6 separate regions of the Homo sapiens genome follow, and all the other regions are reported to be linked to region 6. The links are microRNA targets in miRTarBase. Many come from high-throughput screens and were not tested one by one. Region 6 holds a microRNA gene; each other region holds the end of a gene's coding sequence. Distances are from middle to middle.

Evidence for each region. Region 6 holds the annotated microRNA hsa-miR-506-3p (UAAGGCACCCUUCUGAGUAGA, at 2,162-2,182, opposite strand). A microRNA usually pairs through its seed, bases 2 to 8, with sites in the 3' UTR of a target mRNA and lowers its output. Matches are read on the target gene's strand: a 7mer-m8 pairs with bases 2 to 8, a 7mer-A1 pairs with bases 2 to 7 and ends in A, and an 8mer does both.
Region 1: the mRNA of SPRTN is a reported target of hsa-miR-506-3p. Seed matches in the 3' UTR shown: 7mer-A1 at 4,131-4,137.
Region 2: the mRNA of MAGEA12 is a reported target of hsa-miR-506-3p. Seed matches in the 3' UTR shown: 7mer-A1 at 3,718-3,724.
Region 3: miRTarBase lists ETS1 as a target of hsa-miR-506-3p. Seed matches in the 3' UTR shown: 8mer at 2,445-2,452 and 7mer-A1 at 1,727-1,733.
Region 4: miRTarBase lists ZCCHC4 as a target of hsa-miR-506-3p. Seed matches in the 3' UTR shown: 7mer-A1 at 3,706-3,712.
Region 5: miRTarBase lists FSTL3 as a target of hsa-miR-506-3p. Seed matches in the 3' UTR shown: 8mer at 2,574-2,581.

What each region holds. Positions count from the first base shown.
Region 1 is chr1:231,352,625-231,357,699 of GRCh38, reverse strand. It overlaps SPRTN (SprT-like N-terminal domain), which reads right to left. Exons shown (of 5, transcript NM_032018.7): 5 at 2,677-5,075. The coding sequence ends at 4,339. LOC107985360 (a long non-coding RNA gene) reads right to left here and starts at 410. Exons shown (of 2, transcript XR_001738520.3): 1 at 1-410.
Region 2 is chrX:152,736,214-152,741,288 of GRCh38, reverse strand. It overlaps MAGEA12 (MAGE family member A12), which reads right to left. Exons shown (of 3, transcript NM_001166387.4): 3 at 3,620-5,075. The coding sequence ends at 4,183. It also overlaps the pseudogene CSAG4. Among named protein-coding and RNA genes, the nearest start is that of MAGEA12, 5.0 kb to the right of the region's middle.
Region 3 is chr11:128,457,817-128,462,891 of GRCh38, forward strand. It overlaps ETS1 (ETS proto-oncogene 1, transcription factor), which reads right to left. Exons shown (of 10, transcript NM_001143820.2): 10 at 949-4,760. The coding sequence ends at 4,545. Among named protein-coding and RNA genes, the nearest start is that of MIR6090, 62 kb to the right of the region's middle.
Region 4 is chr4:25,368,189-25,373,256 of GRCh38, reverse strand. It overlaps ZCCHC4 (zinc finger CCHC-type containing 4), which reads right to left. Exons shown (of 13, transcript NM_024936.3): 13 at 2,874-4,228. The coding sequence ends at 4,093. Among named protein-coding and RNA genes, the nearest start is that of ANAPC4, 6.5 kb to the left of the region's middle.
Region 5 is chr19:680,697-685,771 of GRCh38, forward strand. FSTL3 (follistatin like 3) reads left to right here. Exons shown (of 5, transcript NM_005860.3): 4 at 637-864; 5 at 954-2,689. The coding sequence ends at 1,012. It overlaps PRSS57 (serine protease 57), which reads right to left. Exons shown (of 5, transcript NM_001308209.2): 5 at 4,850-5,075. The coding sequence ends at 5,020. Among named protein-coding and RNA genes, the nearest start is that of FSTL3, 6.8 kb to the left of the region's middle. RefSeq lists silencers at 1-126, 317-416 and enhancers at 237-786, 787-1,335.
Region 6 is chrX:147,228,592-147,233,666 of GRCh38, forward strand. MIR506 (microRNA 506) reads right to left here and starts at 2,252; the gene lies at 2,129-2,252. MIR507 (microRNA 507) reads right to left here and starts at 2,486; the gene lies at 2,393-2,486. All of the region lies in intron 2 of LOC105373347 (periphilin-1), which reads left to right.

The DNA of each region.
Region 1 (5,075 bases), not on the chromosome of region 6:
ACTACAACAAATTGCTAAAAAGTCCACAGTAGCCTTAAGGACAAAAAAAAAATTGAGACGAAGAATAAAAGGAAACCATTGGATCACGATTAATGCAATACCAGGATAAAAAACTTAAAACACAACATAAAAAGAGCTGACACTGCACGCACCCAGAAAGGGTCCAGCTAGGTGCTAGTTTTGCAGGTACATCAGTTGTTTCACTTTGACGTTCGTATTTTAAAGTCCTGTAAGCTTTAAAAGTATGATCTCAGAGCTATCAGACAATGGGACAGTATGAAGTTTTGTCATAGTATTTTCCTTTCCACTTTAGAATTCCCAGTTAGGATATGCATATGCATATCCATAGTCTACAAAAAGCAAAACAAAATTTTCTTTTTTTTTTTTTTTTTTGAGACGGAGTCTAGCTCTGTCGCCAGGCTGGAGTGCAATGGCATAATCTCGGCTCACTGCAACCTCCGCCTCCTGGGTTCAAGCAATTCTCCTGCCTCAGCCTCCTGAGTAGCTAATTTTTTTATTTTTAGTAGAGATGGGGTTTCACCATGTGGGCCAGGATGGTCTCGATCTCTTGATCTCGTGATCTGCCCGCCTCGGCCTCCCAAAGTGCTGGGATTACAGGCGTGAGCCTCCATGCCCAGCTTTTTGTTGTTGTTGTTGTTGTTGTTTGAGACAGAGTCTCACTCTGTCACTCAGGTTGGAGTGCAGTGGTGCAGTCTCAGCTCACTGCAACCTCTGCCTCCTGGGTTCAAACGATTCTCCTGCCTCAGCCTCCTGAGTAACTGGGATTACAGGTGCATGCCACCACACCTGGCTAATTTTTGTATTTTTAGTAAAGACGGGGTTTCACCATGTTGGCCAGGCTGGTCTCAAACTTCCGATCTCACGTAATCCACCCACCTCAGCCTCCCAAAGTACTGGGATTACAGGCGTGAGCCACCATGCCCAGTGCAATTTTTTTTTTTTTTTGGCACAGTTTCGCTCTTTTTGCCCAGGCTGGAGTGCAATGGCACAATCTCGGCTCACTGCAACCTCCGCTACCCAGCTTCAAGCGATTCTTCTGTCTCAGCCTCCCGAGTAGCTGGAATTACAGGCACTTGCCACCACGCCCGGCTAATTTTTTGTATTTTTAGTAGAGACGGGGTTTCACCACGTTGGCCAGGATGGTCTCGATCTCTTGACCTCGTGATCCGCCCACCTCGGCCTCCCAAAGTGCTGGGATTACAGGCGTAAGCCACCACGCCCGGCTGCCCAGCACAATTTTCTAAAGTAAAAATTAAGGCTAGGTAACATATAACACTGACCTTAAAATAAACACTGTTTTCGCAGGGCATGGTGGCTCACGCCTGTAATCCCAGCACTTTGGGAGACCGAGGGCAGACAGATCACTTGAGGTTAGGAGTTTGAGACCAGTCTGGCCAACAAGGTGAAACCCCCATCTCTACTAAAAATACAAAAATTAGCCAGGTGTGGTGGCGCTCGCCTTTAATCCCAGCTACTTGGGAGGCTGAGGCAGGAGAATTGCTTGAACCCCGGAGGCGGAGGTTGCAGTGAGCCGAGATTGTGCCACTGCACTCCAGCCTGGGCCACAGAGCAAGATTCCATCTCAAAAAACAAAACAAAAACCCAAAACCCACCGTTTTATAAAAACAGAATCTAGACCCCATGTCCCCACAGCAGGGGGATAGCATTTAAGGATTGAGCCAGAATTACCAGCTCTGCTTCTAAGTTGGGAAGTTGGCTTTAAAAGGGAAAATCTAAACAGAAACAAAACTATGTCTCTATTATGAATGACATATTTGGGGGAATATCAGAATTTTTAGGGTGCAAATTTTCTCAAGTGTTTAACAGATGTAGTAAGGCTTATTTCAAATTGAGTTCCATTTTCTCAACTATTTCCATCATTCCCTAGAACCTGAAACCAACTCCTGACTTTACTACCTGTTTCTCAAAAAATTGTCTCTTCCTCTCCCTCCCTGCCACTACCCTTCCCCCTCTTATCTATGCTGTCCCCAGAAAAATCCATTGGAAACACTTCTCAACATGTCCTCGACTGGCTTATAAGCCTTTCCAAGCCCCACCTTAATTAAGAGATGCTTATTAGCAGGTATCACACAAACCAGACATAAAGTGAGGAACATGAGATCCCTGGCCTCAAACTTGTACTACTTAGCTAGATCTGTCCTATCTGCCATCTCTCCTTTGGCCATTTTGCCCCTCACATTTTACTCTATTCACTTGGAATAGCATTCAGTTCCCTCGGAACATGACTTTGTGTTCCTTCTTCCCTTTGAAAGGTTCTTCCCCACCCTTCTTTAACCAGGCTAACTCGACTCACTCTACATGATTCAACTTTGGATGTTGTCTCCTCCAAGAAACATCCCCCGAAGTCCTGGGCAGAGCTAATTTTTCTTCCTACAGTTTACCCACAGCACCCAGCAAAAACCCTTGTCATAGCACTTAGCAAACTCTAAGGAGATTAATGTGCATTTGTCTTACTCCCCAACTATGCTGTAAAGCTCCTTGAGGACATGGACCATCTCAGCTACTTCACAGCCCCAGAACCTTGTGTGGTTTTGGCTCAGGAAGCATTTAATTACACATAATTTGTTACATTCATTTAGAGAAATGATCCTCTATGAAAATATAACTATATATTGAACATAATATACATTTTAATACCTATTTATAAGTATTTATTAAAATGTTTTAATGCTTTAAGGAATATCAAAATTTGTGAACAGCCAACCAGTCTAAAACGAAAAGGGCTGCTAACAGTGTTATGAATGGTGAACAACTAAAACTCTCATACATTGCTGGTAGGAGTGTAAACTGGCAGAATTTACTAAAGCTAAACAGAAATATACCCCGTGACTCAGCAATTCCATTCCTGTATATATACCCAACAGAAAAGATAAGAATGTTCTTAGCAGCATTATGCTTAACAGCCCCAAACTGGAAATAATTCAAATGTCCATTAACATTAGAATGGATGAATAAATTCTAGTATATTCATACAAATGCAAGAGCAATGAAAATGAACTCCTGCTATACATAGGAACAAAGATACTACATTATAAAATTAAAAAATAATCTGCGACGATGGGGTGAAAACAGTGGGGACCTCTGGAGGTGGTGAGGGTCATGGGTATCAACTGGGAACAGACACCTATAGGAAGCCTTCTGTGGCAATGGAAGTGTTCTCTAACTTGATCCGGGTGGTAGTTACACAGGTGAACACTGTAAAAGTTTACCCAGCTGTGCACTTAAGATTTGTGCACCTGTATTACAACAAAGTGAAGGAAAATTGCAACAAGAAAAAAGAAAACTTGTGAACAACTGTGTTAGGGCTATGCCAACAGCATGTACAGCCACAAGACAAAAAGCAAACTGATAAAAGTCTCTTTGTCCTTTCCCTATAACATGGAAAATATTTTTTTTAAAAAAGATTACTTAAAATGCACAAATGGTATTCCTTTTATTATAATGTTTTAAACTTGGCTTAAAGTTCAAAATACTATTTCCAGATAACTTTCCACTGTTACATCAACTAGGCAACTTTGTTATGTTTATGTTATATGTATCAGTTACTTATCAGCACAGAATTTTAACCACTCTGCTAAATTTTGAGAAAACAGCTAAACTCAATATAAAATTTGGCCTACAGAATTATAGTGGCTATTTGTTACTAAAAATATTCCAAAAGAAATTTACTTATTTTACTATATTCCATATTCTTTAACTTAAAATCTGCTGCCACTGTTTAGTAAAAGTGGGACAAATAAAATTCTTTAAAATATAGAAAATACAGTTCCTGTTAAGATTTTGCAAACAAAAAAATTAATAAATAATACAATTTGAGTACTCTAAAACAATATACTTTGTAGTCTAGATTGTGGTTTTGGTCAGTATGTCTGACACTATGAAGATTTACATCAGTTCAGGGAATGAGTTCTAATACTATTAATAAATAGTCAATATAACCAAACACCTGACAGGATTCCCCATATGAATATTTTTAGGAAAGTATACAAATAAAAAGATTAACAGGTTTTTAAAATCCTTAAGAGCAAGAAAGAACAAAAGTATCTAAAACTTATACACGACAGGCAGAACCTGGGTTACAGTATACCTAAGGCAAGAGTGAATGTAGCACCCTGAGACACAAAACATCTTAAAATTACAATCTTATATGCGTATATATAAAATAGGACACTTTCTATTGGTTATGTGAACTAGATTATAACCTACAAATCTTAGTATTAACCAGAACTTCCTGACTGGCTGACATAGCACATTAGTGAGATAATACAGGTGGTACTTGAGACTTTGAAACCTTTTTCAAAGACTTTCTTCGCTTTTGACTTTGATGCTGTCACCTTCAAGGCACCAGTCCAAGTGCTCATTAATCTGAGACTCCAGAACTTCATTCTGACAAACTGGGCAATTAACCATTTTGCTCTGACTGGATGAACTGCTGGAATTCTGAGCTGTGGTTGTACTATACTTTGGATCATTACCACTGCTTTTTATTTGCTCTTTCTTGATAAAAAAATTGTCAAAAACAGTCTTATCTTCTAGCCTAGGTCGTTTATTTGGGAATGTATCTTCAGACCCACTCACATCCTGGGATGGCATCACAGATGCTGATTCCGTTACTTTTGAAGAATTTCTTAGGGATATCTTAGAAGATGAAACCCTTCTCTGAGAACTAGAAGAGACTGAGTTTTTAGGGATGTTGCCAACTGTTACACTTATCCTTGGAGATCCATTCACACCTCTGAAAGCCTTTTGGTTGGCAAATGATACTCTAGGAAAGTAGTTGCTTAGAACATTTTGGTGACTGTTACTAACAGCAGGGGAGACCAGATGAGAATTTTTACTTGAACCATTCTGTTCAAATTTCACCTTGATTTTAGAATTAGGTCTTACAGCATTTGCTGAATGGTTTTGATTTAAAAGATCTTGGGTTTTATTAATGGCATGTGAAGTGATCAGTTTCCCAGGTGAAGGTAAATTGCTTGTTTCTCCTAGAACATATCCTTTCCCACTAAAAGGGATTACTAGCTGGGCCTCAC
Region 2 (5,075 bases), 5.5 Mb from region 6:
GGGAGTCCCAGGAGAATTTTAAAAATACATTAAGTTGAATGAAAATAAAAATGTACATACAAAAAGTGGGATTCTGCTAAAGTGTGTCCTTGAGGGAAATATATAGCATATTTTAAATGTTTATATTAGAAAATGAAATCTAAAATCAATAACCATAACTTTCACTCTAGGAAACCAAAGAACGAAGAGCAAGTTGAATTTAAAGAAATTGTAGAAGATCCCACCTCCCTCCCTTCTCACACTCCCACCTCTTCCCCCTTACTCCCTACCCCTACCATTTGAGACACACAGACACACACATCATTTTACAACATGTTCATTTTATTTTCGTCACCATGGGGTATACCCTTTGGGGTATAAAATGTACTCTACACCCTGTTGGCTATTTTTCTGGGGTTAGACCTCTGGAGACTTTTCAGGTAGCCTTGAGGTTTCTGGCCTTGCCCGGGAATTACTGGCTGCCCAAAGAGAGACTGGAGAAGGTGGTGGTCTCCTTGCCCTTGTGGTCCTACTGTGTCTCATTTTGATTGAGTTCTTTTGGCTGGTCGGAGTGGCTGGATAGTGTTGGCCCACTCCATTCCTCAGGTTTTTTTGAAGCGGTGGTCTTTTAGGGAGAGCCTTTTGTTCCTGGAACTTCCTTGACGGGTCCCTGTTCCCTTCCAGGTTGTCTTGGCAACCTGGAAAACCAACCAGGAGATCAAAGAAGGGCACTGGTTTGGGGAAGAGGATGGAGAAGGGGTGAGAACAGGGGCTTCATAGAGAAATGGGGCAGGGTGGGGTGGGGGTTGTGCCAGGGGAGGACAGGGTAGGATTTAGAGCTTCGGTGGGCCGTTCACTTTGATAGGGCTTCTGGGCTAGGGTTGAGAGGATGCTTTCCACTTCCTCACCTCTTTGGTGTTGGTGGGTGGTTGTTGGACAATGGGCTGGAGGCTCGTGGTTTCCTGGACATCTTCACCAGACCAGTGTCTCTCAACAGTCTACTCCAGTCCACCTGGTCTCTCCATGCCTCCCCCAGGACAGTGAAGGCAGGCCAGCAGGCTAGAAACTCACAGCGCATTTTTATGTTAGTCTTGTGGTAGAATTCCTTTTCCAGGAAACCTTGGTCTTTTCTCTTAACACCTTCAACTAATTGGATGAGGCCTATCCACATTATGGAAGTTAAACTGCTTTACTTAAAGTCAACTGATTGTAAATGTTGATCACATCTACAAAATACCTTCACAGCAACATCTAGACTACTGTTTGACCACACAGCTGAGCAGTATAGCCTAGACAAGTTGACACATAATACTAGCCGTTGCACATATCTTGCACCATACAAAAATGTAACTCAAAATGAGCCACAGACTTTATATGTCACAATTACATTGCTTTTTTTTTCTAGGACAAAACAAAAAAAATTGTGTTACCTGAGGTTATGTCTTAGCTTAGGCTGCCATAACAAAATGCCATTGACTGAGTAGCTGAAACAACAGAAATTTATCTTTTTTCAGTTTTGAAATGTGGAAGTCCCAGATCAAGGACTGGCGGGGTTGTCTTCTGGTGATGGCCTTATTCCTGGCTTGTAGATGGCCCTTTATTAATTTGTCAGTTCTTGGCCTTTCCTCTGTGTATGTGCAGAGAGAGAGAGAGGAAGAGAGAGAGAGAAAGAAAGAGAGAGAGAGAGAGAAGTCATGCAGGCACAAAAGTACTTTCTTCTGTTTCTTCTCCCTTCTTACAATCACACTAATTCTGTGGGATCAAGCTCCCACCCTTATGGCCTCTTTTAACATTAATTACTACCTTAGAAGCCTCATCTCCAAATACTGACACCCTGGGGCTGAGGGTTTCAAAATATGAATTTGGTGGAGGACATAAGCATTAGCAAAGAATAGACACATAGATTAATAAAACAGAATAGAGCTCAGAAATAGACCTGCACACACATAGTCAGGTGATTCACAACAAAGGCAATAATGGTGAAAGTACAGGTTTTCCAACAAAAGGTGCCTGAACAATTAGACACCTATACACAAATTATAATAACCTAGACATATCCTTACATATTGCACGAAAATTAACTCAATACATCATAGACCTGATGAAAAATACAAGAACTATACAACCTCTAAAAGAAAACGTAAGAGAAAATCCACATAACTTTGAGTTTGGTGATGAGTTTTTAAATTCAACACCAAAAGCATGATCAAGGAAAGAAAAATTTGCCAAGTTGATTTTATTAAAATAAAAATTTTATGCTCTTCAAAGGACAATGTTAAGAGAATGAAAACAAGCCACAGTCTAGCAGAAAAAATCTGTGGTACACATATGTGATAAAGAACTTGTCTCTACAATATATACGAATTCTTAAAGCTCAATGATAGAAAAAATGAAAATAGTCAAAGATCTGAACACAATCTACACAAAAGAAGATACACACAGGGCAAATAAGCATAATAAAATACTGAGTGTCCTTTGGCATTAGATAATTGTGTACTAAAGTGAGATACTACTACACACCTATTAGAATGTCTAAAACCCATAAAAAAGCAAAACAAAACCAAGACCAATTGCCAGTGAAGATGTGGAGCAACAGAAACTCCGGGCGTGGTGGAAATTAGAAGTTTAACAAATGGCCGATGGCTGTTATTTCTAATATTTTTAAAGCCTAGGCATTAACACTCTGGGACTTTGTTGTTGTTGTCGTTGTTCTCCAGGAGTCATCAGAAAATATACAGCTCAACAGGACATGGGATAATTAGGCCAAAAAGGAAGCTTCACCTGTAAAATTCAGTTAAGTATTTCCTCTTAGAGAATGCACTTCAAACTTTGTGTGTGCGGGAGTTTTGCCCAGCCAGGTGCAACCCAAAACTCCTAGAATGTGTGTCAAAGACCAATTCCTTCCATCTCTCCCAGCTGCTTTCCCACCCAAACCACTATTTTCATCCATTTTGTTACCATCCAAAATCTGGCCCACGCCTACAATTGGTCAAATTGCACTTGAGATAACCTAGTTAGAATGCCTTTTTAATGGAGTCAGCTCTGGCTCTCCCTGCCTGGCAGAAAAGCACCTGGCCAGTGGCTTCTGGGTCACCCTTCCTGGGAAATTCAGCCTTATCGCTCAGGAAACCCTTGCAGATGATAGATTTTCATCACCTAGATCTTGGGTTGTGTTCAATAGCAGTGGGACAAAAGCACAGGACACCTTCTATTCCAGCCCCAGGTGGAGATTCCTCTCTGTTCATCCCCCATCCGAAATAAACTACTCAGAGTTGCTTTCCATTCCAGGCTTTTCTCTCATTCACTGAGAATCTGTGGGCCCTGGACCCACCCAGCTTCATCAGAGTCAGCTCCTTCAGAAGGAACTGCAGGTTCCCAAAGTCCAAAATGCCCCAGCTCAGGGCATTTACACTCCACAACTCCCTCCTGGAACCCCACACCCTCACCCTTCTCTTATATTTCCTCTACATCTTACAGGACTTCTTGCCACCTTAATTATATGACTGCAGGTCCTAGGCTCTACAACCCTACGGGTAGGCGTGAGTCTTGCTTACCTTAGCATCCGCACTACTAACGCAGAGCCTTCCACAGAGCAGATGCTGAGTGAATGGAAAATAAATGAGCCAGTGAACAGGAAGAATTATTTATTCAGATTTAATTTCTCTTAAATTCTCAAAGAAGCCAAGGATATCCAGGTATCCATGCTTTTTTTTCAAATTTACAGAATAGAGTGAGGTATAAGGCAAGAATTAAGTATCTTTTAACTTCTTGAGGTCTTTATCTCATGTATTTTACTGCTAATTCTTTCACAATTCTAAGCACATACTTTTTCCACTGCTGTTATTTGTCACAATTCACAAAATGGAATGGATTTCCCAATCTGAATAAAAAACAACACTCTTACTCCTAAACTATATAAACAGCACTATGTGTGACTACTGTCATTCATAAACTTGGATGCTGAAGTTCATTCAACCATCCGTTAAAAGGAACATTTGAACAATTCCAACAGGAAACAAAGATAAATCTCAAAGTCATCCAATAGAACAGAAACTCACTACTAACAATACTGACTGCTCTCTTCAAAGAGTGAAGAATGGGCCTCATGTCACACGAGGCAGTGGAAACTAATGGATGGGGCCTTGGAAGGTGCACTGGCCCAGACCCCCTCCCACTGGCCCTGGCTGCAACTCGTGCTCAGACTCACTCTTCCCCCTCTCTAAAAGCCCATTCATGCAGGGGTGGGTAGGAAATGTGAGGTCCTCCACTGATCTTTAGCAAATGGTGCAGGACTTTCACATAGCTGGTTTCAACGAGGGCCCTTGGACCCCACAGGAACTCGTAGCATGCAGGATCACTGCCGGGGACCTGCCGGTACTCCAGGTAGTTTTCCTGCACCAAATCTTGGGTGAGCAGCTTCCTGGGATGCGCAAAGACACTGTCCTCCCTCCCATCAGATGCCTCCAACACACTCAGCTCCTCCCAGATTTTCTCCTCAGGGGCACAGTCGCCCTCTTTTGCGATTATGGCCAGGACGATTATCAGGAGGCCTGTCTTGGGCACGATCTGATTGTCGCCCAGCAGGCCATCGTAGGAGAGGCCCAGGCAGGTGACAAGGATGTACAAGTGGCCGATGCGGACCACTTCCACCACCTCGATGCCAAAGACCAGCTGCAAGTACTCGGAGGCTTTGCTGAAGATCACAGGAAAGAAGTCCTGGAAATTTCTGATGACACTCCCCAGCATTTCTGCCTTTGTGAATGGCTCCCTGGCTCGATACTTGAGGAGCAGAAAATGAACCAACTCAGCCATCTTCCTACTGAGTGCTACTTGGAAGCTCGTCTCCAGGTCAGGAAAGGTGCTTGGCCCTTCCTGTTCTTCGTTGCTGGAGCCCTCATCGGATTGACTCCAGAGAGTATAGTTGATGGTAGTGGGGAGGGTGGAGGCTCCCTGAGGACTGTGGGGAGGACTTGGTGACTCGGCAGCAGGCACCTCCCGCAGGGTGACTTCCACTAGAGTAGAGGAGGAGGAGGCAGTCTCCTGCTCCTCAGTAGCAGGAGCCTGCGCACCCACCAAGCCCAGGGCCTCTCCTTGGG
Region 3 (5,075 bases), not on the chromosome of region 6:
CTTTTCCCAGGTTTGCAGCTGAAAACTAAAAACAAAATATAAGGACCTGAAGCCATTTTTCCCAAAGTCTCCCAGTGAGTGGTGGTGGCTTGACCAGGATTGAGGGGCTGAAGCCTTCTTCGCGGCCAGTCCTGCTCCCTGACCACCAGACCACACAGTCCGTGCTTAACATGTACTCAGCAAACCTCAAGCTCCAGGCCTGAAGAAACAGATTTTCCAAAAACAGAGCTCTCTTTGTGAACAATTCAGCAAAAATTCTCTTTCCAGCTGTGAGCTGGGATTCATGTTGCAAATGTTGGTGTTAATTAAAAACATCCACCTTCTACAGTTTCAGCAACAAGGAAAAAGCACCATGCATGAGGTGTTCCTAAGCACTCCCCTCCAAAGCACTTATAAACATGATTTTATTTATGGCATGTGTTGCTAGGGGTTCTGACAGATATTATTATTCCCAATCTTCAGCCCCAGTGAAAGAGTTGGGGCCAAGGAGATGGATGTGAAGGGCCCAAATTGCCATAGAGCAAAATTAGTATCAGTGGTGGACACAAGAATACTGTTCATTTCCCACAGGATCCACTAAAGATGTTCAACTTTCTGTATTCATATCAGGAACGGTACGTAGCTGAAATCAAATGTTTATCTGTTGAGTCATTAAACGTTTCCTTCACATGGCTCTTAGTCCTTCGGACATGAAGAAGTGAGGTCTGACAAGGCCAGGGACATTCCACAAAGGATGACACAATATATTCAAAGATTGGGATGTTCGATGACTTCCCTATATTCCTGTTATATTTCTCACCTTATTAGGAAATCTTTATCTCCAATGGTCCTGAGCTAGTGAGATCAGAAAGACTAAACTGCATCCCTCTGTGCTTGCCTCTGGTTGGTTGATTTGTCCTGCTTTAATACATGATCCAGACAAGAAAGAATCAAGCCAAAGCCACAGCATTATGAATGAAATTCTTTGTTTTTAATTTCACACAGTTTAAAATACAATATGAAATCAGGCTACAGTATATAAAAAACTCTCCAGCAAAATGATGTGCCAGCATCAGCTACTAAAATAAACAAACAAAAAACTCCGCCATAAGAATTTTTTTGCATTTTTTTTTAAAAAAACATCGACACTTACATCGCTACATCTCTAAGCTACCTCAGTTCTGATTTTTAAAAAGCACCTGCTTTTCCTTTTTTTCATCTTGCTTCTAAATTTTCAGCTTTTAAAAAATATAAATTATATGAAAATACAAGTTGGAAAATAGTCAAACACAATATAACATCTTTTTCATCCCTATACTTCTCAGCTTAAAAAAAAAGTATTCTTAAAAAAAAAAGTTCAATAACTGAGGCAGTATTCCTGATAATTTTATTTTAATATATATATTTTATATATGTATATGTATACATATATTTATGGTTCCTTGAAACTTCTTTGGAATGTAGGTAAGAGTTCAACAAATTTATATAGACCCCAACAGAGTAAGCGGCATGCACAGCATGACTAGAAGAGAGATGGTGTATTTCTCACCATGAAGGTTAGGCAGGTTAATGCTGTAAAACCCAGAGTGTTCATCTCCAAAGTGAGGAAAAGCACATCTGATCTTTGAATGCTACCTCCAATCCCCACAGCCACAAAAATCAGGGCTCTATGTAGGGGAAGTCCCTCTCCAGAATGGAGAAGGGAACAAAAGTGACTCTGAACCCTAAAGCCAAAACCAACAAAGGTTAAGGCATCTCTGGGAAAATAAGGGTTTCACCCAGCTAGACCAGATTTGCCCATCCTTCCTCTGAAGTTAACGTGTGTTTTTAAAAAGCATAAACGCAACATTTCCAGTGTATAAACCACCCACCACTCTTCCTGGGATGGTCTCTGGCCTTTGGACAAAGGAGAAAAAACATCTGGCCAGATCGACAAAGCTGTCTTAACTAATACACTATCTACAAATCTTGAAAATGGTGGACTTAGAGAGAAAGGGAATTTTAGCAAACAAGCGGGCGGAGGAGCACTAGGAGGCACTTTCTTATATCTTATCTGCTATAGGAACTGCAGGAGTTATACTCACAGAAGGAGAGTTTCCGGCATAAATTTAATAGGAACGGTGGATGATTTGAGAAAGTGATTTTATGCCTGGTTGCAAACAGCAAGCAATAATTGATACCCGGCCCTGGTTCTACTCTTACCCATTATTGAAATGTGGAAAGACTTACCTAGAAATCTAAGGTATTATTTCAGCTGCAGTTTTGCATGTCTGCAAACACACACACACACACACACACACACACACACACACACACACACAACATTCACACACATGCACACATTCACACACACACCTTTTGCCAGTGCCCAACAAAAATCACATAATCTAAGAGAAAACAATGTAGTCCAAACAGTTCCACCCAACACTCCCTGAGCAGCTCCTAAAATATTTTGAGAGCTTCATTAAGGCACCTGCATCCAAAAGATCAAAATAATACAGCTGGGATAATTCTGCCTTTGCTTTCCATATGGATGCTCCAATTCATCAGTATGGGGACACTCATGAATCACAGAGCTATGTTCCTGATAATTCTGGGTCTGCAAGAGGATCTGGGAGTAAATAACAATCAATTTTCTTAAAGATATGCTAGAAAGTAGTTAGTACTTCCAATTTCTCATCCAAATCCCAAAAAGGGCCAGCCCTGAGAAGCTTACCTGAAATATTTCTTTCCTTCTCTCATGGAAGTCCATAAAAGCCACCCCTCCTCCTTATCCTTTCAACTGGGCAACTATAGAGTGAGGGAGATTCTAATTGTATTAGGCACTTTTCCTCACTAGTTAGATGTTGACTTTTCCTCTAAAACTCCATTTTCAGATTCCCCCTCACAACCAGCAGAAAGATGACTACCTTGCTTGACTATGTTTGTATTTAAACCTTGGGGGAACTAAAAATCTATTCAAATCTCATGGACAACCTTATTTTCCTCACTGAACCTCCTTCCTTAGTTTCCTTTGCCTTCAAGTCATTCCTCTCTTCTGGAATTAACCTTCACTTACCCTGTGCCAAGACATCAGACCCAAGCAAGAGGCCCTGGCATCACCTGTGCCATTCATTTTGCATACACAGTCTCACCTGACATCCTACCGGACTAATTTAAATTCTTCAAAGGAAAGCCTTGCACTTCTCTTCCAAAGACAGCCAAGTCACATTTTATTGAAATGCTCTCTTAATTTCCATCACTTCTAAAACTCAGCAAGTCTAAACTCTTCAACTTAGGTCGTGTCTCAAGTTACTTTTTCACTCACCAATCAGAAAGCCGTACACTTCTCTCTACTGAATAACAGAGTTGGCGGTGAGGGGGTGCAAAAAATGGAGGACTCTTGGAAAATAAGACATAAAAGAAAAATTACAGAGTGTTAGTTTGGAACGACATGCATTCAGGACTTATTTCTTAGGACCTGAGGGGTAATGCCCATGCATACAGCTTTTATTCCAAGTCATCTATGCTACAGATATAGGACTAAGAAAGAACCAAGTCAATCTTCCTCCTTCGATCTCCCTTCCAGGACTTCAACAGTGCTCCTACGTTTACTGTCGTCCAAAACCAGGGATGCAAAATACATTCAGTTCAAAGACTTAATGCTTCTTAGCTCAACATTAAGTCCAAACCCCGAGAATCCACTGATAACAAGTAAGTAAAGGGATGTGCTAATTTTTTTTAATTGTAGATGACATTCACACACATAATTCCCCTGTACCCAAATCAGCATTAATTGTCCTTCTTATATAAGTCCCATGAATTTGGGATCCCTGATCTCAGTGAGAGCGTTTTGCTTTTCCAATGGGGTCTATATAAACAGTTTTCTTTCATTGTGACAGAATCCTCAGCCGGCAAATAAAAACAAACTTACATGATATTGCAATACTGAGACCACCTTAGAGCTTAAGACGATTTTTAAGAAAAAAAATACTGGCACAAAATTTAATAAAATAAATTTTAACACAACAACGGTTTTGGCCCCTCCCCACTGAAGTCCATCTTTGCTTCAAAACTAGAGTGATAGGTAAATAGTTCTCAGATTTTCAGTGCATCCCCCCCCAAAACATGTTTCATCCCACCCACCTCTTTTTTGCCCTCCCAGACCTAAAAACAGAAGCAAATTAATTGCCTTACATCAGTTTCATGAGTTCTGATGTGACAATGTCACTTGCTAATGGGTCCACAACTCAAGACACTTTTTCATGGATGATTTTTAAAAATGATTGGACACATTAGTCTCTTTCTCTGTTAAGCCAGAGCCTTCAAGCTTCTGAGAAGGCCCTTCTCCCTCTCCTGAAAATTTGCTCAAGAATTTCTGGTCCCACCCACCCCACAAGTCCTGGCTTTCCTTTCCCAACTGCGCACAATTGATTACAGCTGCAACTGACTTAGCTCCCACCCCTGAAGGTAAAAAATGAGTTCTGGAAAATAAAAAATAGAATAACAATTCAAAATTCAGAGTCCAACCAACACGGCTGTCCTTGGAAGGTCTCAGCAGGGTTTCCCCAGCCCCTTCAGTGCCATCACTCGTCGGCATCTGGCTTGACGTCCAGCATGGCGTGCAGCTCCTCAGGGGTGTACCCCAGCAGGCTCTGCAGGTCACACACAAAGCGGTACACGTAGCGTTTCCCCGCTGTCTTGTGGATGATGTTTTTGTCGTAATAGTAGCGTAGGCCACGGCTCAGTTTCTCATAATTCATCTTAGGTTTGTTTTTCCTCTTTCCCCATCTCCTGGCCACCTGAAATTTAAAAAGAAAAATAAAGGAGGAGTAGGCAAAAATCTACAAGACAGGCCAAATATATATGTTTCTATGCCTATGCTATACCCATTCATGGTGACCCATGATGCTCAAGTAAGATGATTTGAGATTCATGTAGATATAGAAAATATTTTTCGGGCCTATCTCCTGAATTCCATTTTTCATGGGTTGGGCAAGGATGGGAGTCACAATGATTCTTTAAGTTGATGAAAACACAGTGACCCTGAACTAGGATTAAATATGTGACTTTAAAAAACAAACAAAAAGCCACACTATACATTCTCCTCTTTCCGC
Region 4 (5,068 bases), not on the chromosome of region 6:
GTACAGGGCTAAACAAGTATATAAAGTCATTCTTATACAAGGCATGATTTAAGTACCATAAAAGAAGTATAAAAACAACACACAAACTGACATTTTTATTTCTCTGGCAACAGATGTACTACTCCAGTGGAGAGACCAACAGGGACATTGTGAAGGCAGTGGCAGCTGACCAGGACCCTTTGTAGGTTGTGATTTTATATTTCAAGATTAGTCAAACTTCTCCCAGATGCCTAGTATTTTGCAGATTACTTTGAAGGGGTCTTGCAGATAAAGCTGAGAGAAGAGAGAAAGAGATCCCCCCCCGTATTGTTCTATATTGTTTTATGCTCAGTACCTGTTTTAAGAAACAAGGAAGCAAAACCAAAGGCAGGCAGCCGGGTGCCAGGCACCAGACCCAAAACCAGGCCTGGGCCTGCCTGACCTTAGCCTGATAGTTAAAATTCAACCCATGACCTAGCAACCGATGTTATCCGTAGATTCCAGACATTGTATGGAAGGACATTGTGAAACTTCTCGTTCTGTTGTTTCACTCTGATTACCGGTGCATGCAGCCCCTGTCACATACCCCCTAGATTGCTCAATCGATCACGGCCCTGTCATGTAAAATCTTTAGTGTTGTGAGCCCTTAAAAGGGACAGAAATTGTGCACTCAACAAACTCGGATTTTAAGACACTAGACTGTCGATGCTTCCAACTGATTAAAAGCTACTTCCTTCACTATCTTGGTGTCTGTGGGGTTTTGTCCACGGCTCATCCTGCTACAAGGCTACTAATCTTCACGCAGCACATCCCCACATTTAAAACTTCAGTTAGGGTGGTCCTCATATTGACTCTAAGTGCCTCCTAATACAAATCTGTTTCCCTTTTCAGTCCCTAGAAGAAACATAATAGAGTGGGTCCAGTCCGTATTTCAGGCATGCCTACCACTTCAAAGCCTCTAGAAAATTCCATGCTTACATCAAATTTTTATTGAGCACCAAAAAGGCACAAGATACACAAGAGCAGATGAAATGGGTGCTGACATTAAGAGACCTAAATCTTTGAGGGAAATAAAATCAGTAAAAATAATCACAGAATAATATGTGAAAGGCCTTAAATGTGGTATCAAACACCAAGGGGCCAAAGAAGGTTTCAGTATCAGGGACTCGTGGAAGATTCCCAAAAGAGAACGGAGTGGCCACATGGAGGGACATATTCCAAGCAGAAAGAACAGTATCGGATGAAAAGAATGGGGCATATGGAGTGATAAACTAGTCTAGGTACTGGACTAATTAGGAAAAAACATGAAATCCAGCCTACAAAAAGACTTTGTTTCTCATTAAATTTCATAATATAAGAAGAATGAAATTTAGCTGTATTTATTAAAAATGTCCTTTTAAAAAGCTTAGAAAATGTTATCTGTCAAATTTTAGGGATTTTCTTCTATTGCTATTTTGAGAAGGTATCTTAATGTTAAGATGTTCAGATTTCTATTAAGAACAAATGACCTCATCCCGCTTCACATTCTACCTCCCAGAGACACATTTTTACAGGCTACCAATTAGTTTATTCTCTGAAAAAGGAATAGAGATTAAGTCCTTAAAATTAGTATTAATTGAATATAAGTGTAAAATCACCAAATTTCCTATTTTTAACTTTCTAAGACAGTAATAAAGTTTTAAAGTACATTATTCCTGGCTGGGTGTGGTGGCTCACGTCTGTAATCCCAGCACTTTGGGAAGCTGAGGCGGGCAGATCACCTGAGATGAGGAGTTTGAGACTCGCCTGGCCAACATGGCGAAACCCAGTCTCTACAAAAATATAAAAATTAGCCGGGTGTGGTGGCACACACCCATAATCCCAGCTACCAGGGAGGCTGAGGCACAAGAATCACTTGAACCCAGGAGGCAGAGGTTGCGGTGAGCAGAGATCCCACCACTGCATTCCAGCCTGTCCAACAAAGCAAGACTCTGTCTCAAAATAAATAAGTACATTATTCCTGATTATAACTATTTCCTCAATTCTAAGATTTTTTTTTTTTTTGCATTTCAGTATTTCTGAAATCAGATGATCTAAAAATTAATTAATGAAGTATTATTTCTCTTCTCCCCCTGAAAAGCTATGATAAAATCAATGATGTATTTTATAATTGATGGTATCTTAACATTAAGGCAATATAGTGATGAGAATAACTGTTGGCCTTCAGAACTCAATTTTTCAGTAGTCATAGTCCCTCAGGTGTCTTAGTTTCAGAGGAGATTTCAATAGATTTTATCATGGAATGGTGAACACCATAAAGTCAGGCAATGTCCCTATCCTTGCTTGAATCAGAGAGGGGAACTCTCACAACGGTTTTACAAACTTCATATCTCACCCAGTCACCTCCAAATGTGCCCCTCCTATCATAGCCCTCCATGTAACAAAAGGGAGAAGAGCTTTCTGATGCTTATGAAGTCCAGGGGTATAACTCATCTTTTGACATCAACTGATGTACACCACTGCCACACTGATCTGGGCCACACTTGAGCATTCTACACCAGGCATCAGTCCTAACTTACCTGGAATTTAAATACCAGATAGAGTGCAGTTCCTCCACCCTTACTTACAGGGCTCTGCCTAACCCCAAACAAAGATGCCTTCAAATCTGCTCTACAGCAGTTGTTTGGAAACAAGAGAAAAGTCATTATGCAAATATAAGTCATTCAAAACAATTCAGTCTTAAGGAGACAATAACTAGCACAGAAACGGGGAGATGAACTGTTTGTTCTGGGAGTTCAAATTACTGCCTTCAATGCTTTGTTATCAGGCCAAAAGGTAATTACCATTAGACCCAGTAACAATCTTCATTGTTAACCTAACACACCAATGACAGAGGAGAACTGAGAGCCAAGCACTTGGGTCTCATTTAATTTAATCACAAAACAAACCTCAGGTATAGCTGTTATTCTCCCCATTATAATAATGATAATAATGAAGAAACCGGGGCTTTTAGAGAGTGACCTGGCCAAGATCATACAGCCAGGAAATATTAAGGGTAGGAATGAGGAGTTTAGTTTGGGCGTTTAATTACCAAACTATCCTGGCTTCTGCTACGAACTACTTTTACAAAGACAGAATCTTACTGCATAGGTTAAACGACACTGGAATGACAGAGCAAGTCGTAGTTCTAAACATCTCACTCATTCAACAAGCATTTAAGTGATTCTAGACCGTCAGAGGACAACTGCAAAAAGTACTTGAAGAATAAATATTTAATAATAATGTAATTATAATTATAATCTGTATATCTAAACAGTGCCTTTGTAAAAACCCTTTCCATCATCTTCAAATTCAGTCTAAAAATAATTGTACGCTATACTTTTCAAGTGGGGTTTAAACTATTGTTTCATATTTAACATAAAATATTTTCCTATTTAAATTAACATACTTTTATGTTCACGGTAAACAAACTGCATAGGTTTTCACTTTCATTTTCTTCTGACATCTTCTGCAAAAGAATGGTCTGCCCATTTTTTGGATAAAAAGGCTAGAATAATGTGACCGGAGCTGGGTGAGGTGGCTCATGCCTGTAATCCCAGCACTTTGGGAGGCCAAGGCAGGCAAATCACTTGAGGCCAGGAGTTCGAGACCAGCCTGGCCAACATGGTGAAACCCCGTCTCTACTAAAAATACAAAAATTAGCCAGTCGTGGTGGCATGTGCCTATAATTCCAGCTACTCAGGAGGCTAAGGCAGGAGAATTGCTTGAACCCGGGAGGCAGAGGTTGCAGTGAGCTGAGGTTGTGCCATTGCACTCTAGCCTGGGAGACAGAGCAAGACTCCATCTCAAAAAAAATGAAAACATAAAAATAGAACAATGTGACTGGGAGAGACTTAAAGTGAGGAAAAATGAATGCTGAAAGAACTAGTAAACTGGCTGAAGATGGAACAACTCCCCATGTCTCCAGAGAGGCAGATAAGGGACTGTAAACCAGCAAATGCCACCTGCCTGTTATCTAGCTCAGAAAGGTGCACACCTCTGGAAGCAGCTGAATTTAAGTCCAGTGTGGCACTTTCAGAAAATGGCATCAAAGGTTGGACCATAAATCTTTCTTATTCTCCAGTCACTGGACATTTAAGAGCCAAGATATTGATGGGCTCTTTCCCTCCTTTTCTTTCTCCTTGTAGCAGATGTATGATTCATGGATTGTCCTTTCGTGGTCTCCATTTTCATCTTATTACTTTTTCTTTGCTTCTGCTTTCTGACAGCTCTGGAAAACAAGGTGCTAAATTATTTCACAGAATGAGCACAGTGAATTATGTAATTATGTTGAAGTTTAATTAACTAGCTAACCAAATAAGAAAATAGAAGAAGGGAAAGAATCTACTGTATTGCAAGCATAAATCCTCAGTCTCCTAACCATAACAACAAGGGAAGAGTCAGAGGCCTAACCAAGCAAAATGTTTGAGAAAAAAAAATTCTTTAAAAGATGGTTACTATGGATTTAGAACAAGCTGTCCGGGGCAAACACACCACAGAGGTAAATGCAAAGCTAGTGAGATTGGACTTTTTAAAAAAGTTTTTTGTACATCTGTATTGCTCAACTCAGCACTTCAATCTCCAAATCCTTGAATTCCGTTTTTTTTGGAGAGGAGCTGATACATGGGGCAGTCAGCAGAGACAGAAAAATGAAACAGCACAATGGAAAAAACCGAGAAGCCTTGAAAGGGCCTGTTTCCTAAGTCGTACAGATTTTCCTTTCCTCAGCGGATCTAAAAGTCCTGACAAGTGCCACGCAGGGTTATCAGCATTTTGTGGTCCTTATCTTGAAGATTAGCTTCAAAATAAACAAGCTGGAACTCACCCTCTGAAAACACTGAACCACACCAGACAAAACAGATTCTTTGTTTCTGGTGTTCTCCACACTAAGTTACAGGCGACCTGCAGCTGAGAAAATGACTGGCCCATCCATTCACTTCTCCAAGCTAGCAGAATCATGCCATGACACTCAACATATTGAGAACCAAGGAAGGGGCCAGAGCTACAACAATGCCAAACCAGGACTCCTCCCCTGATTACCCAGCAATATCAATTGTTAGGTTCACCTCTC
Region 5 (5,075 bases), not on the chromosome of region 6:
GGGCGGGGCCGCTGCCGCAGTGCGTAGGGGCGGGGCCTCCAGCCCAGGACAGGTCACATGGGTGGCGGTGGGGCCTGAGTAAGGGCGTCTTTATACTTCCGAGGGAGTATCACGGGGTAGGGTCTTTTGTAGGGTTGGGATTTGGAAAATAGTGGGCCTCTGGGGGCTCACACTGGGCAAGAGGTATGTGGCATGGTCAGAGCGGGAGCGTGACTCAGAGAGGGGCTTGTGGGTGTAACCAGAGGGGCATGATGGAACCAGGGGGGTGAGACTGGGTCATGTAAGGGGCGGGGCTCTTGGCTGGGGCGTGGTTCCTGGGTGGAGATGGGCGGGGATTTGTGGGTGGAGTTTGGGTGGGCGGCCCCGCAGTCGCGGAGGGGCGGGGCTTTGGGTAGCATAAGGGGCAGGAGCTCACGAAAGAGGTGTGGCTCCTGGGTACAATGGGAAGGGCAGGGCTTGTGGGTGGAGCCTGAGGGGTGGAATGGAGAGGGGGGCTCACGGGGGGCGGGGGGGTGCTTGTGTCTCCTACCAGAGGGTTTTCGCATCTTGGGGGTTAAGGGTGGGTCTTGGGGCCAAGAGCCCTGCGGGGTTCTCAGCGAGATGTCCCCTGAACTTCCCCTGGCACCCGGCCTGCAGAGTCCTGTGAGCACGTGGTGTGCCCGCGGCCACAGTCGTGCGTCGTGGACCAGACGGGCAGCGCCCACTGCGTGGTGTGTCGAGCGGCGCCCTGCCCTGTGCCCTCCAGCCCCGGCCAGGAGCTTTGCGGCAACAACAACGTCACCTACATCTCCTCGTGCCACATGCGCCAGGCCACCTGCTTCCTGGGCCGCTCCATCGGCGTGCGCCACGCGGGCAGCTGCGCAGGTGCAGACGCAGGGCGGGGGCACAGGCCTGTCCTGGGGGCCGGAGAACCCCCTGCCCTGCGCCCTCAATGCTCTTATCGACCCTTGCAGGCACCCCTGAGGAGCCGCCAGGTGGTGAGTCTGCAGAAGAGGAAGAGAACTTCGTGTGAGCCTGCAGGACAGGCCTGGGCCTGGTGCCCGAGGCCCCCCATCATCCCCTGTTATTTATTGCCACAGCAGAGTCTAATTTATATGCCACGGACACTCCTTAGAGCCCGGATTCGGACCACTTGGGGATCCCAGAACCTCCCTGACGATATCCTGGAAGGACTGAGGAAGGGAGGCCTGGGGGCCGGCTGGTGGGTGGGATAGACCTGCGTTCCGGACACTGAGCGCCTGATTTAGGGCCCTTCTCTAGGATGCCCCAGCCCCTACCCTAAGACCTATTGCCGGGGAGGATTCCACACTTCCGCTCCTTTGGGGATAAACCTATTAATTATTGCTACTATCAAGAGGGCTGGGCATTCTCTGCTGGTAATTCCTGAAGAGGCATGACTGCTTTTCTCAGCCCCAAGCCTCTAGTCTGGGTGTGTACGGAGGGTCTAGCCTGGGTGTGTACGGAGGGTCTAGCCTGGGTGAGTACGGAGGGTCTAGCCTGGGTGAGTACGGAGGGTCTAGCCTGGGTGAGTACGGAGGGTCTAGCCTGGGTGTGTATGGAGGATCTAGCCTGGGTGAGTATGGAGGGTCTAGCCTGGGTGAGTATGGAGGGTCTAGCCTGGGTGTGTATGGAGGGTCTAGCCTGGGTGAGTATGGAGGGTCTAGCCTGGGTGTGTATGGAGGGTCTAGCCTGGGTGAGTATGGAGGGTCTAGCCTGGGTGTGTACGGAGGGTCTAGTCTGAGTGCGTGTGGGGACCTCAGAACACTGTGACCTTAGCCCAGCAAGCCAGGCCCTTCATGAAGGCCAAGAAGGCTGCCACCATTCCCTGCCAGCCCAAGAACTCCAGCTTCCCCACTGCCTCTGTGTGCCCCTTTGCGTCCTGTGAAGGCCATTGAGAAATGCCCAGTGTGCCCCCTGGGAAAGGGCACGGCCTGTGCTCCTGACACGGGCTGTGCTTGGCCACAGAACCACCCAGCGTCTCCCCTGCTGCTGTCCACGTCAGTTCATGAGGCAACGTCGCGTGGTCTCAGACGTGGAGCAGCCAGCGGCAGCTCAGAGCAGGGCACTGTGTCCGGCGGAGCCAAGTCCACTCTGGGGGAGCTCTGGCGGGGACCACGGGCCACTGCTCACCCACTGGCCCCGAGGGGGGTGTAGACGCCAAGACTCACGCATGTGTGACATCCGGAGTCCTGGAGCCGGGTGTCCCAGTGGCACCACTAGGTGCCTGCTGCCTCCACAGTGGGGTTCACACCCAGGGCTCCTTGGTCCCCCACAACCTGCCCCGGCCAGGCCTGCAGACCCAGACTCCAGCCAGACCTGCCTCACCCACCAATGCAGCCGGGGCTGGCGACACCAGCCAGGTGCTGGTCTTGGGCCAGTTCTCCCACGACGGCTCACCCTCCCCTCCATCTGCGTTGATGCTCAGAATCGCCTACCTGTGCCTGCGTGTAAACCACAGCCTCAGACCAGCTATGGGGAGAGGACAACACGGAGGATATCCAGCTTCCCCGGTCTGGGGTGAGGAATGTGGGGAGCTTGGGCATCCTCCTCCAGCCTCCTCCAGCCCCCAGGCAGTGCCTTACCTGTGGTGCCCAGAAAAGTGCCCCTAGGTTGGTGGGTCTACAGGAGCCTCAGCCAGGCAGCCCACCCCACCCTGGGGCCCTGCCTCACCAAGGAAATAAAGACTCAAGCCATTTTGGGGTGTCCAGGCCTCAGTTTGTCTCCTCTCTCAAGGCTTCAGGCCGCCCCCACGGCTGTGGGATGGGCAGCCTGGGGCCTGGGGTGCCGCATGGGTGCTCTGGAGGCACGGGAAGAGAGACCCAGCATTAGTCCTTGGGCAGCCTCTGGCCGCCTCTGGGCCTCAGTGCCTCTCCAGGCAGTGGACAAGCCCGGGAGGGGCTGAGGCAGAGCGGGAGGGGAGGGAGAGAAAGGAGGTCTTTTGGGAGGGCACACAGGATAGACAAGATGGCTTAGGGCAGCCCTAAGACACCAGCTGGCTTGGGACCCAGAAATGGAGGCCCGGTCTTGAATGACTTGGGTGTAACGATAGCAGTAATAAAAATAACAGGATTAGGGCCCGGGTGGGGTAGCTCACCCCTATAATCTCGGCGCTTTGGGAGGCCAAGGCGGGCGGGTCACTTGAGGCCAGGAGTTCCAGACCAGCCTGGGCAACATAGTGAGACCCTCATCTCTACAAAAAAAAAAAAAAAAAAAAAAAAGACCCAGGCATGGTGGCATGCTCCTGTGGTCCCAGCTACTCAGGAGGCGGAGGTGGGAAGATGGCTTGAGCCCAGGATGTCAAGGCTGCAGTGAGCTGTGTTGGCACCACTGCACTCCAGCCTGGGTGACAGAGTGAGACTGTTTCTAAAATAATAATAATAGCATAATTGGCCGGGCGTGGTGGTTCATGCCTGTAATCCCAGCACTTTGGGAGGCCGAGGCAGGTGAATCATGAGGTCAGGAGTTCGAGACCGACCTGGCCAACATGGTGAAACTCCAATCTCGGTGAGCCGAGATCGTGCCACTAAACTCCAGCCTGGGGGACAGAGCAAGACCCCATCTCAAAAAAAAAAAAAAAAAAATTAGCCAGGTGTGGTGTCATGCACCTGTAGTCCCAGCTACTTGGGAGGGTGAGGCAGGAGAATCGCTTGAACCTGGGAGGCAGAGGTTGCAGTGAGCCGAGATCGCACCACTGGACTCCAGCCTGGGTGACGGAGTGAGACTCTGTCTCAAAATAATAATAATAATAATAATAATAACAACAACAACAACAAAAAGGCCCAGCGCGGTGGCTCACCCGCGCCTGTAATCCCAGCACTTTAGGAGGCCAAGGCTAGCGGATCACGAGGTCAAGAGATCGAGACCATCCTGGCCAACATGGTGAAACCCCATCTCTACTAAAAATACAAAAAATTAGCCGGGTGTGGTGGTACATGCCTGTAGTCCCAGCTAGTTGGGAGGCTGAGGCAGGAGAATGGCTTGAACCCAGGGGCAGAGGTTGCAATGAGCCGAGATTGCGCCACTGCACTCCAGCCTGGTGACAGAGTGAGACGTCATCTTAAAAAAATAATAGGCCGGGCGCGGTGGCTCACGCCTGTAATCCCAGCACTCTGGGAGGCCGAGGTGGGTGGATCACGAGATCAGGAGATCGAGACCATCCTGGCTGACACGGTGAAACCCCGTTTCTACTAAAAATACAAAGAATTAGCCGGGTGTGGTGGCGGGCGCCTGTAGTCCCAGCTACTTGGGAGGCTGAAGCGGGAGAATGGTGTGAACCCGGGAGGCGGAACTTGCAGTGAGCCGAGATCGCACCACTGCACTCCAGCCTGGGGGACAGAGCGAGACTCCATCCAAAATAAAAATAAGTAAAGATAAAAAAATAAAATAATAATAAAGAAAATAAAATCTAAAAATAAAAAAATAATAACACAATAACAAACTGTGACAATAACATCACCTGGGACTTGCTGTGCACCCCGCGCTATTCTCTGGTTTTCAGAGGATGACCACGAGGCTTGATGTGTGGCCAGACCCTCTTGGGACTCCTCGGCGCGGCCGGTGCAAGCCCGCCCTGGTGTCCAGCAGCCCCCACGCCCTGCACAGGGAGCTCAGGGCTTCCTGGCCTCCGTTTCCCAGCGGACTCGCCTGCGGTGTGGTTAGGCGGCTGGAGGGAGGTGGAGGAACGGCATTCCAGGTGGGAGGCTGCAGGAGTGTGGGTTGCAGGGGCGCAGGGGTAGACCCAGAGGGGTTCACGGTGGGGGGCATGGGAAGGTGGAAAGGGGCTGCGGACCGAGCCGCGACACGAATGCCGGTGGACCCTGCAGCTGACCGCCCACGGGTGAGGCTGGAAGTCAGTTAACATTTTACTGGGTTTGCTTCTGCCCTTTGCATGTGGAATGGGTGTGCCCCACCGCTGCCCGTCCCACCCCAACCCTGAACATCAGGCTTCCCGTGGGGCCCAGCCACGGAACATTCCAGGCCTGGAGCGGCCATCTCATTTGCATGCCGCAAGGTTGTGGCTCAGGCGGCTTCTCCTGGGGGCCTGGTGGTCCCAGGCAGGGGGCCGGGCTGGGGAC
Region 6 (5,075 bases):
TCTCTTAGTATTACTATGCCTTGTGATTAAGGTCAGTAGAAAACTACAACAACCCAATCCTGGCAGGACTACTAATGGCCCAGACCCTTCAGAAATGAAAGTTTGGGTCACTCTACCAGGTAAAATATAATGGCTGAGGTGCTTGCTGAAGGCAAAGGGAATACAAAATGGGTAGTGAAGAAAAGTAGTTGTAAATACCAGCTAACACCAGATGACAGTTACAGAAATGAGAATTGTAGTTCCCATGAGTATTTTCTACTTATATTTTTATTAATATACTTCTGTGTTTTCTTGTCTCTCTTATCCCCTTATCATGTAACGTAAGGTGTACTGATATTATATCATAGTTATTAACCGTTGTTAACTTTAAATAATCATAGTATTGATGTTATGGAACACCAAGGAGAAGAGTAAACAAACAACACTCCAGGACTTTATCTCCTCTTCTGGTGAAGTGGTTCATGAATTCTGGGTTGTATAAATGGTAGTTGTATCTTATTAAATGAAATTATGACCTTGGTATTTTTCTCATTTGATGATTAAATATAATTTAAGGAGATGCGTATAAGTGACAACATGACAAGGAGTGAACTTGTGATGATTAATTCTATATTTCAACCTGACTGGGTCATGGAGTGCCCAGACATTTGGTCAGTCATTATTCTGGGTGTTTCTGTGAAGGTCTTTTTGGATGACATTAGCATTTAAATCAGTAGAATGAGTAAAGCAGACCACCCTCCCTAATGTGGATGGATGGGCCTGCACCAATCAGATGAAGGTTTAAATGGAACAAAAAGGCTGACTCTCCCCTAAGTTAGAGAGAATTCCTCCTGCCTGACTGCCTCCAAACTGGGGCATCTCATTTTTTTCTGGCATTGTACTCAAATTAAAACATTAGCTCTTCCTGGGTCTCAAACCTGCTGGCCTTTGGACTGGAACTACAAAATGGTTTGTTCTACTGCTTCTTTGGCCTCTGGACTTGGACTGCAACTATACCATCAGTTCTCCTGGGTCCCCAGCTTGCTGACCCATCCCCCTGCAGATCTAGGAACTCACCAGCCTCCATAGTTGCCTGAGGTTATTCCTTGCAGTATCCTTATAATAAATATCTTAAGGGATTTATTTTAAAAATAGACTTCTATAATAATTATATACATATATATTTGCTCAATCATTGTCCTGGGTGTTTCTTTGAAGGTCTTATAAGACCTGATCCAGAATCTGAGGGTGCCTGGGGTACCTGTGAAAAGTATGTCCTGTAGGTTTTTTAAGCATTTATTCCTTTTTCTCCACAAAAGGACTACAAAACACTGGGAACAAGATTTGAGGTAGGAACATGATCCTTTTTCTGCATCCTTTTCCTTTTTCTGTGAATGTCATATGTATGTGTGTGTGTGTGTGTGTGTGTGTGTATATATATATATATATATATATATATATATATATATAAAGGGATATATAAACCCCTTTGTATATGTAAAGTTTCCAGAAGTATATGTACACACATGTTCATACATATATGTTCTCATCACTTCATCCGTTCCCATAATAGTTAAGACCAGCTAAAAACATATAAATAGTTCAAATGAAAGCAAATTTGGGGTATCATATCAAACTCCACTGATATGAGATTATCATCACGGATACACAGGAATATTAAAGGGAATTTGAGTGTATCTAAGCCTTGAGGAGATCACTTCATAAGAAAGATGGTTCATGGAGTTTGGAGTTCAGCAGGGAAGGGCAGGAGGATATTTGTGCTCCCTAAAAAGAAGGCTTAAATATTGTGAGGAAAGAAGATCAGTGTAAACTTCTCAGGGGTTTATAAGGCAAGAAGTGTATTTGGGTTGTTATAGAGAGAAAAGACTAAGAGGTACAAGAGAAAAAGAAGTATCATGTTCCTACCTCAAATCTTGTTTCCAGTGTAGTCAGTCATTTTGTGGAGAAAAAGCAATAAATAATTGAAAAACCTACATGAGAGACTTTTCCCAGGCACCCTCAGATTCTGGAGCAGATCTCTCAAGAGGTACTTCAGAGAGTACCTGGAAATGGCTCATCACTAAAGGTTGGGTACCAAGGCTCAAGGGAGGGCAGTATTGTCACTGAAATTCCACTCGTCATTACCAATGCCACCACAAATGTTGTCCATGTTGCACATTACTCTACTCAGAAGGGTGCCTTACAAATATTAATCTATTAAGTAACACCTTCCTGAATAAGGCACTACACATAGTATGGCTGATGGTGGTGGCACTGACCATCTTAATAGTAACACGGGGAAACTACAGATGAGGCTATTCCCAGAGAACCTCATCCTCTAGGTTTTACCCCACAGAATTCTCTTTAAAGGGTTGTATGAGTTGACCCATCACTGAGTGGGTAGTTCTGACTTGTATCTGTTGTGCATTATTTCACTCCAAAAGGTGCAAAACATATTTCTAGACACATGCATGGCACTTCTTGAAGTGAAGCACTACACACAGCACAGCGGAAAATGTCCCTCACTCCGCCATTTCAGTCAGAATCCCAACACTCTCAGTCCACTAGGAATAAGCAGAATATAGTCAATAGATTAAAAAAAAAACAAACCCTTTTTCCTCTCCCTTTTGTCTCCTATGTCTTTCACTGAATGCTTATTAATTACTTCACCTGCTGCACATTTAATGAGACAGATTTTAGGAGAGAGAAAATTTTCCCTCTTCCTCCCAGACTTAGCATACTTCACTAAATTGTTCTGCTAATTTTCAATTTAATATAGTTGGCACATGAACAACTACTTCATATGCCTCAAAAGCCAGTCATTACATAGAAAGGACCACTCAAGTGACTCATCATATCTAGCGATTGCAGGCCAGATAGAGCTCAGTTGAAGCAGTGCTGGAGAGTTCTCTTCTTTCCAATTTGAATCTTCTTTATATCATTGGGGCCTTGGTTTGGCATCCTCTGTTCAGAGATGAAGGCCTACAGCAGCAGAAGCAGTAGTCACCACAGTCATGCACTTGCAAACCAGTGTTTAGACCAAGAAATATCTGCAACACATGTGAACACATGCATGCCACACATGCAAATAAACATGTGAACAATGAAACAAACAACCCCAAAACGAATGCTCACAAAATAGGGCAATGCAAACACAAAGACAAACACTGCATGATCTGACTCATACGCAGAGTCTAAGAAAGTTGATCTCATAGGAGTAGAGAGTAGAATGATGGTTACCAGAGTCTGGGGAAGGGAAGGGAAAGGGGGGTTGGGGAAAAATTGGTTTATGGGTACAGAGTCACAGTTAGGAGGGCTAAAAGTTCTGATGTGTTATTGTGCAGAAGAGTGATTGATTATAGTTAGTTAACAATATTTTATGGTATATTCCAAAATCACTAGAAGAGAGGGTTTTGAATGTTCTTCCCACAAAGAAGTGATGGACGTTTGAGGTAATGAAAATACTAAATCCCTGATTTGATTATTACACAATGCATGTATGTATCAAAACATCTCACTATATCTCATCAATATTTACAAATTATTATGTGTCAACTAAAAAAACAATAAAGGAGTAACAATTTTTTTTTTGAGACAGAGTTTTGCTTTTGTTGCCCAGGCTGGAGGGCAATGGCACAATCTCAGCTCACTGCAACCTCCGCCTCCTGGGTTCAAGCGATTCTCCTGCCTCAGCCTCCCACGTAGCTGGGATTACAGGCATGTGCCACCAGACCCAGCTAATTTTCTGTATTTTCTGTAGAAGCAGGGTTTCACCGTGTTGACCAGGCTGGTCTTGAACTCCTGGCCTCAGGAGATCCACTGGCCTCGGCCTCCCAAAGTGCTGGGATTACAGGCATGAGCCACCGTGCCCAGCCGGGAGTAACAATTTTTAAGAATGTAAAAATACTACTGAAAATTCTAATTAACACACATTTAAAAACACCATTCAAAATCGGAATAAAAAAAAACACACAAAATATACAAAACACATCCAAATATACAAAATTCTACAGGAAACAAAAACCCTAAAAAAGCAAACAAGCAATACAATAACAAAAATCAAAAAGAACATACACAATACAAAAACCCCCAAAACATAAAAACAAATACACTAAAATGTAACTTTACTTTCCAATAATCCCAAACAAAACAGAGAACGAAGTTCAAAGGAAATCTAGCACGTATCAGGGATAGACGACACTGCACTGAGAAATGCTGCGAGTGTAGGAAGGAGAGCAGTGGACACTGAGAAGTAAACAGATGAGGTATCATAATAAACAATGATAGAAAACAAAGTAGAACAGTTTCCCACCTCTTCACTACAGCCTGTATTTCCTCATGACTTTGGGTGAAGTGAGGTATTTGGCCACTGCAAAAACAAAATCCACACACATCATCAGTTGCCAACTAGACACCAAGAAAGACATGATTTGAAAGAGCTTTCCTGGGAGATAATGTAGCAGCAGACTATCAAATTCTATCCCATCCTCTGATATGGACATGTAACATTTACACCTTGCTTCCCAGGTCGTGCTTCCTGTGGGCTCCAGGAATTGGTTCTCCCTCCCCCTCTACTTTCTCCTCCCCCTCCCTCCCCTTCTCCTTCTCTCTCCCTCTTCCACCCTCTCCCTTCTCCCCTTTCTCCTCTTCCCCTCCCCTCTCTTTCTCCTTCTCTCCTTCTGCCTCTCCATACAGATATTTTTATATCAAGGTTCATAGCTACGTCTTTTCTAGTAGTCAAAGCCAAAATAGCTATAAACTGGAGACAAATGGCCATTAACAGGTGAATGCATTTAAAAAAAACTGGAATATCCATACAGTGGAATACTACTCATCCATAAAAACAAATAAATTATTGATGCAAATAACAATGTGGACGAATTTCAAAATAATTATGCCAGGAGAAATAAGCTAGGCCAAAATAAACAGTATATACAGTATGATTCCATTTTAATAAAAAATTTTGGCCAGGCACCGTGGTTCATGCCTGTAATTCCAGCGCTTTGGGAGGCTGAGGTGGGAGGTTCAGTTGAGGTCAGGAGTTTGAGACCAGCCTGGCCAACATGGTGAAATCTCGTCTCTACTAAGAATACAAA